Linked DNA regions of Homo sapiens. The protein of the gene in region 1 interacts with the protein of each later gene in a pairwise test. Each region holds a gene or a part of one and is shown on either strand. Other genes may lie near its edges.

Region 1 (3,572 bases):
TAAGAGGAATATATATACACACACATATATATTTGTTCCATTGATCTAAGTTGGAAGGGAAGGTTTAGTAAGAAATACGTAGTATAATAACTAACTGGTGGAGCCCTCTGATGACTGATGATTCTGGCAGGTGATTTTATCTGCTCTATAATGTCAAAATTTAAAAATCATAATTATGAAAATTTTAACTATAAAATGTAATACACTATAAAATACAGTTTTAGATTTATTCTGGTACCTCGTAAGTTTATTGGGGTAGACTATATAAGACTATAAATCTTTAATCTATAAGCATTAGATTTTGGTCACAGTTTTGGCTAAATATTTAATTTTTAAAAGATTAAGCTAAAAGGTGTATTATTTGGTACTACACTCATTGCTATTGCTATTATTCTTTTGCTGCTAGAAGTTGAAAAGTTTGTTTCCTTATTGAGAATATAAATAAAACAAATTACTTTGTGTTAACTTTCAATATAGACCAGGTCTTTATGCTATGTTTCTTGGGCAGAGAAGAGGAGGTCTTACCTGGATTATGTTGCACAAAACAAACAAATGAAAAATAATGTAATAGCCAAGCTCCCCCCTTGACCCTGCAAATAGCTTATAGAAGTAGCCTGAGAGTATCATATTATAATTATTCTGCTTAATTTGCTCTTTATTTAGATTTAAAATACATCTTTCATACATTGTTTAAAAGGAAAAAGGAATCATGTCAAAATGTTTCAGGAAATGATTTAAGTTAGATATAAAGAACATAGTTCTGATTTTGAAGTGTTAGTGGAACTCAAACAGAAATGATTAGTGCTCTCTTAAGATCATGACATGATTCTTAAAGTGGCTATTTCAGAGCCTAGAAATAACACTGTATTACTGACTAATGTCTACAGAGTACTGCAAAAGATGCTGAATAGAAAAGCAGGTGGTGTGAAAATTTTAATTTTTAAATAGCAAAGCCCCTGTCTGGGTATTGTCAGTAACTTTCAGAAATCCTAGAGAAAATGATGATTAGGTCAACACAAGGAAAACAGCGATTAACAGAATAGGAATTGCAAAGAGCTTCAGCCAATGGAAAAAGAAGCAAGGCTTCTGAAGTCTCCCGACCACTCGTGTCTGCATGGGTTTCAACGACCGGTCCCACTGGGTCAGTATGGCATTTCTGGCTCCTGGCCACTGCCCTGGGCCCACCAGCCTAAACTGGTAGGGACTACAAGGGCCAAAATAAACTTCCATGGCCAATTTGGGATCTGTGAGAAACAGCCATGGGATGTTGGGCTTTGCCCCAATGAAGGAGGAGAGTTCATCCATATAAACAATGTAATCTGTCTGTATGGTCTCGCTTTTGCCAAACCTGGAGATGGGAGAGAAAACACCACTGTGGATACCCAAACTCTGTGTAGAAACAGAACAGAGAAAATGGCTCGCAACTTTATATCAGTGAGAATTAACATCAATCTCTCTCTCTTTCTAAAAAAATTTCCCACACTACCCTGACATACAACATCAATTTCTTGTATAAGGAGAATGTCATTTGTTTATCCTACTTTGTGGTTTTTTTAAAGAACTTTCATATGGTTTCATTTGGAAATACCCCAACACTGCAATGCAGCTGAGAAAGACATTTTTTATCCTTATTTACAAATGGATAGATTGCCTCTTGCTCAAATGACCCTTCTATAATAGTTCATGGCCACTGAGCTAATTAGTGACAACTAGAAATGGAGCCCAGTTCTCCAGATTCATTCTCACTTTTCTGAGTCATTTTCATTAGAGGTATACCTTTGAAATATCCTCTACATCTTAGAGAATTTATGGGCTAGAGAATGGAAGTCCACATCCATGTGTTCCCAAACTCCTCTGATTTCAAATCCTTTCTGGGTCTCCTTTCTATGATATATATTACAGGAGGCATGGAGGGCTAAAACTGTCTATGTAATGTAGATTCTCAATCCTATTATTTACTCTGTGCCTTGTACTAAAAAGAACTTAATACAATGTCAGAAGCAACGTAGGTCTTCAATTAATATTTGTTGAATGGATGAATATAGCTTGTAGTTGTCATTCCAATGATGTCATTCAGGATAATTTAAGATTAAAACAGTTCCAAGCATTCATAAATTCTCACTTTTCTATGGAAATCCTACACTCCTATTACAATAGGTACTCTTACCATTTGCGCTTTTTCTCCATTTTCTCATTAATATCATTCATCATGTCTTCCATAGAAGGCAAAGTACAAGTTCCTGATAAAGAAGGAAAGACACGATGGTAATTAATGAGTCTGGCATAGGACCAGCCTGTAATTTTCCCTTTTTAATAATGAGTTATGAATTACATTAATTGGTGTTCATTTTCAGACAGACACCAAATTCAGTTCTAGTCTTCTCAGAACTCATATTTGTCATAATAATTAAAAAACATTACCTAAATAGCTTTGCTCTTAAACTGGTTACAAGATGTTTCAAAACAGTTTCATAGATATATTTTAATCTCAGTCATATTTTAAGAATGTTGTCTTTTAAATTATAGCCAAACAGAGGTGAATTGGCATCACTTTTCCAAGATTTATGAAGAAAAATCTTCATAGAAATTAATCCTGCTTTGCCAGAAAATGGAATTTCCAGAAGATAAGATATCGAATTTGGTGAAGGGCTAAGTTTTTCTATGGGAAGCCAGTAGTTCTTGAATATGACTGAGGATATGGACTGTCCACAAGTCACCAAGGACATAAGGGAGACCCAGGAGACTAGATCTGACTTGGGGCTGCCCCAGGATCCAGGTTTACATAAGTTTGCAGAGTTCTCTAAAACCCAGACCAAAACAGCCTTTTGTGTCCAGAAATACTTCAAATTTAGGATGATTTCTTTGGTAATCTTGGTATCAACTTGAAAGAGAATAAAACTCTTAGCCCAGATATGATTACTCAAGACCTACAATGGCTTGCTTAATTTCCCATTTCTACACTTCTTATAGGGAGGGTCACTTGAACAGCTTTTGTAGATATGGTATGGTTCCAGGCCTTGGAACTTGTCATGCTTTTCAGAGGAAGAGATTGAAAAGAAAGAGACTGTTTTTTAGCCTGCCGACTACTGCCATTGGGTTGCTTGTAACTAGCCCCTCTTGTCTTGGTACTCTGGTTTTCCAAATCTAGGTTGTTTGCCTTGTGTCTCATTTCCCTTAAGAGAGCCTGTGCCGTGTACATCAATTTTCCCCATAAATTGCCTTGTTTCCTTTCTTCAGAGCCCAAGTTACAACTCTTGTCCTCATAGAGAGTAAGGGTAGCACCCTTCCTTTAATGCCAGCCTCTCTGGGTCTGAACCCTAAGTGGAATCCTGAGTGAAATTTCATGCCATTACCTTCCTGGCTACCTGGTCGTGTGATCTGCATCTCCCCACAACTGTATTCCAGCCTGCTGCTGGGGGATGCTGCCTGCCTTTCTTGCCTGACCCCAATCAAGTTTGTTGTTTCCTTTGTAAAATATAAGAACTCAGTATTCTTATGTATTACAGACTGATCATCTACTACACTGAGCACTTTCTGCCTCTATTGATCCACTGTTTGTTCTTAGCACTTTC
Region 2 (4,671 bases), on another chromosome or scaffold:
TGTCTGGATTTCCACAGCACTCCTGGTCCTCTCTCCCAGCACTTTCCTCTTTTAACCTCATTAATACATAGGGAGTTATTTTTCAGAGGTGGTATACCTCTTTGGTGTACCTGACATACCCAGTGTGTATTTCTTTTTGGATGGTAATGATTTGCATACTTGTTTGTTTTTTTCACTGGATCAGCAACTTTTTGAAGGTAAAGACTGTGTCTTACTCATTGTTTTATCTCCTTTGTCCAGGATATAGTGAGCCCTCAGTAAATGTTTGCTGAATTAAGGACTCACTCCACCACCACCACTAATTCTGTCACCTTTTTGATAGGGAGGCTCAGTTACCTGTTCATCTCTGTATTCCCCTCAGTGCTCAGCCCTGTAGACAGTCGTGACATAGTTTTAACTAAATGCTGAAATGTTGAGTAGGGGGAAAGAAAGAGCCATCTTATTATTATTATAGTTAGCAAAATTTTTCTGTAAAGAGCCAGGTAGTAAATATTTTTGTCTTTATGGATGGCTGTACATTCTTTGTTTTTGTGTTTATAACCATTTAAAAATGTAAAAAGCATTCTTACCTTACAATACAAAAACAGGTTGAAGCACAGGTATTGCCTGGGACATGACTGCAGGTTTTAGGGCAGGAAGGAAGAGGCAGCATGTGCCGGTTCCTCAGCGGCCAGCCCTGCTTTCATTTCCTCTCTGGGTCCTCTGCCTTCTTTCCTGAAAACACTGCCCAGCGCATGCCATTTTTGGGGAGCCACTCTACTGTTAAATTAGTTCATTTTGTTGTTGTGACTATACCCACATTTACTTAAAGAACCTCTGGAGAGGCAGGAAAGTCAAGACCAAGAACTCTGCTTGAATGAAACGGATGATTCCTTTAGGGAGTGTCCAGCAGAGTGGCTAACAAGGAACTGCCCTTCTTCTTTTGTCCAAGAAGAATTTTAAACTTCAGAGCCATGAAAATGAGCAATTATGCAAATTCGAGTATATTTTGAGTAAAAAGAGATTGGATGCTGTGGATGGTAACTTCTCATGTCAGTTTATTCTTATGATAAACTTTGTGATGTTTGGTTATGGTAATATCTGATTTCTAGCTCCTGCTGTGGTTTTCAAAGAGAATAGAAAACAAATGTAGCATGATCTCTGAGGGCTTGTTAGGAAGGAGTCTGGATGCTAGTTTCTTCCGTGGTGTGCTCACTGGCTGTCATTCCCTGTATGTATTTCTCCTTCTGCAAATGAGGCCAGTAGTGTTGCAGAGAGAGAAGCTATTCTCTAGGTTCAGCTATTCAAGGAGTAAAACAAAGTAGATCTTTGCCCACCGGCTTGCTGCTAACCTTTATGAACTTCGGACTTTGGAAAATGCATATCAGCAGAGTTGGGTTAAATATGTCATTAAAATAGGTTATTGGCTGGGTGCTGTGGTGTGTGCCTATAGTCCCAGCTACTCAGGAGGCTGAAGTGGGAGGATCACTTGAGCCCAGGAGTTCTGGTCTGTAGTGTGTTATGCTGATCGGATGTCCGCACTAAGTTCAGCATCAATATGGTGACCTCTTTGAGCAGGAGATCACCAGGTTGCCTAAGGAATGGTGAACTAGTACAGGTTGGAAACAGCAGGACAAAACTTTCATGCTGATCAGTAGTGGAATGGTGCTTGTGAATAGCCACTGCACTCTAGCCTGGGCAACACAGCAAGACCCCATCTCTAAAGAAAATGTTATTGACTTTTGTTTTATATATTTGTGTATATGCAAAAAATACTCTACAAAATATACATAACTTCAGAAAAGTTATGTATAACTTATGTTTGGTATTTATGAATATTCTATTAATTTTTTGTGCAGGTGTTTTGACAATAGCTCATATCTGTTATAGAACTATGAATTAAACTTAATAGTTATTTGTATTATTAAAATATACTAAAAGTGATCATTATTATTTGTATAATATAATATGAAATCATTTAGTCCAGTGGTTCTCAAAGTGTAGCCTCTTGATCGGTAGCATCAGCATCACCTGGGTACTAGGAACTTGCTAGAATGCAGATTCCTGGGGCCCAACAGTTGATGCTTTATCAAGCCCTGCAGAAGATTCTGGTACTAGCCAGGGTTTGAGAACCACTGGTTTAAACCTTAATTAAGAGGTTCTTATATTTTTCCTGTGAATGTGCTAGTAAACTTTAATGTTGCCAAAATGTGCTAAACAGCTGAAAACTGGGTCTGATATCAACAAACGACTTATTTAGCTTTTTGTTTCTTAATATCAACAGGTGACACTTGGACAGAAACACTGGCCTATGTGCTCTTCTGGGGAGTTGCAAGCATTGGAACATTTTTTATCATTCTTTACAATGGCAAAGATTTTGTCGATGCTCCCAGACTGGTCCAGAAAGAAAAGATAGACTGAATTTGTATTTGTGGAAAGCGGCTTGGCTTGGAAGATTCCATTGTGCAGAACTGGAGTCTTTACTGACCCGCTTTCCACATCAGCCCAAGGTCTTTTTAATGCCTTTATCCAAAAGCACATCTTGTGCTCCATGCAGGATGATGACAGAATTGATCTGATGTTACTGCCTTGATGGTCTCTTTACTATTGGGACAGTTAGATTTATAATTTGAAGCTATTCTGTAATTAAAATATAACCTGAATTCAGCTTGCAGAATGGAAGCTGAATCTGTTCATTGTATTCTATTGATTGTCAATTTAATTAGCTGTTGCAGAATAAGTAATATATTTTAAAAACCTAGCTCCTTTCATTATTTAAAACAGCAAAATTATTTTTGTAGCTCAGTTTCATTATTGTCATTGTAGAAGCGGTCACTATTAGCAGGCATACTTTTCCACACATCTTTGGACTTTTCTTAAAAGTTCAGTAATAAGCTAACTGTGTTTATAAAATGTAAGTCTCTTACAGACATCAAGTAGTTTGATGAGACAGTCTGTGACTTCATGATAGGAAAGAGGAGGATGAGGTCTGGGGTTCTTTAAAGTCTCTGGTGGGCTGCCTCATGACTTTAATCAGCTTGAACTGCCAGTGCACCAGCAGTTTAGGTGTGATGAGAGAATTCAGATATACTTTATCTTTTTAAAAAAGTGTAAATAAAATCAAAGAATGTAAAGTCTATCTCTTACGCTAGAGGTCCAAAGCTGCCTCTGTTTTAAAGATTATCCCAATGTGGAAGATGCCCATGACTGGTCAGCTACTTCCTCCTATACATTTTGGTTTCTTTGAGGGTCACTCATTGAGACACGCAGGCCTCTGAGAGGGTCTTGTTCTAGATTTCATATTGCACTTGGAGGGTAACAGCTGCTTTTTCACGCATGGTACTCTTGATGTTTTTCACTCTGTCAAGGATTTTGTTGGCTATCAATGAATGTGTCTAAAACTTAGTGCTTCCAGGTAGTTATAGTACTCCAAATCAAGGACCAACTTAAACGTTAATTTTTGTGCAAAAACAAACCTGAAAAATATGCTTCGGAAACTGTGCATAGTTCTAATTGTAAGTCAGATTGTATATTCAAATTGTAATTAAGAGATTTAAATATTAGAACGGTATGTAAGGTAGTATAATTACCACTATTTTAAATAATTCAGTTAAACACTGCTGCAATATTTCAGTGTTGTGCTTGAAAATATGTACAGTTTTTTTCCAATATTAATACCTTATGTTGTCCTTAAATATTTCTAAAAGCGCCTTTATTTCAGCATTACCTTTTTTTCATCACTATCTTTTATAAAACATTAATATAAGTCGTTACTTTTAGAAACTAAAGGAAATAATAGCTGGAAAACCCTCTGTAGTTTAAAATCAGTCATTAAACTCACAATAGGGTAAGTAAATATAGCCACCTGTTAACATGTAAATAAGCATAATTTGTTCCAAAGATGGAATATTGAAACTTAGTTCATGTCTGCTGTAAAATATTATTTAAATGCTGCTGGGCATTTCACTTAAAGAACTTAATGTCAACAGCTACAACAAAGACCAAATCTGAACTGCTAATGTGGCTGCTTTGTAGGGAATGGACTAATATCAGTGTGTTAGATCTTAAGGTATCAGTATTTCAGAATCCTGCGACGATTTTATTTCTAAATTCATGTACTGTATGTCCATAAGTGAAAATAAAATGTCATATTCTTTTCTATTATTGGTATCATTCATGTACTTTGAAAGTGATGTTTTTCTTTTTGATCTTAGAATGCTAAAAATCATGCAAAATGATAGACGGTTTGGCTCTGTGTCCCCACCCACCCAAATCTCATCTCAAATTGTAATCCCTACGTGTTGAGGGAGGTACCTGGTGGGAGGTGGTTGGATCATGGGGGATGGTTTCCCCCATGCTGTTTTCATGAGTTTGCACGAGGTCTGATGGTTTAAAAGTGTTTGGCATTTACCCCCTTGCTCGCTCACTTTCCTGCCACCGTGTTAAGATGTGCTTTGCTTTCCCTTCACCTTCTGCCATGATGAAGTTTTGTGAGGCCTCCCCAGCCATGCGGAACTGTGAGTCAAACCTCTTTTCTTTATATGTTACCCAGTCTCAGGTAGTTCTTTACAGCAGTGTGAAGACAAATTAATACACAAAGCAATGCATGATCATCATAGAAAAATTAGAGTAAGCAAGAAAATCAGTAGCTTCTGCAATTTTGCTTTCCAGTTATGATCACTTAAGAAATTT

What was found.
Region 2: the proteins of FMO3 (region 1) and SACM1L interact in binary tests that used the Homo sapiens proteins (3 or more experiments, as listed by UniProt).

What each region holds. Positions count from the first base shown.
Region 1 is NC_000001.11:171,114,876-171,118,447, reverse strand, and holds the end of FMO3 (flavin-containing monooxygenase 3), read right to left. Parts: intron 2,241-3,572; coding exon 2,168-2,240; intron 1,349-2,167; coding exon 1,006-1,348; 3' UTR 629-1,005; downstream 1-628. UniProt on the Homo sapiens protein: Essential hepatic enzyme that catalyzes the oxygenation of a wide variety of nitrogen- and sulfur-containing compounds including drugs as well as dietary compounds.
Region 2 is NC_000003.12:45,741,270-45,745,940, forward strand, and holds the end of SACM1L (phosphatidylinositol-3-phosphatase SAC1), read left to right. Parts: intron 1-2,263; coding exon 2,264-2,400; coding exon of another isoform or gene 2,401-2,466; 3' UTR 2,467-4,140; downstream 4,141-4,671.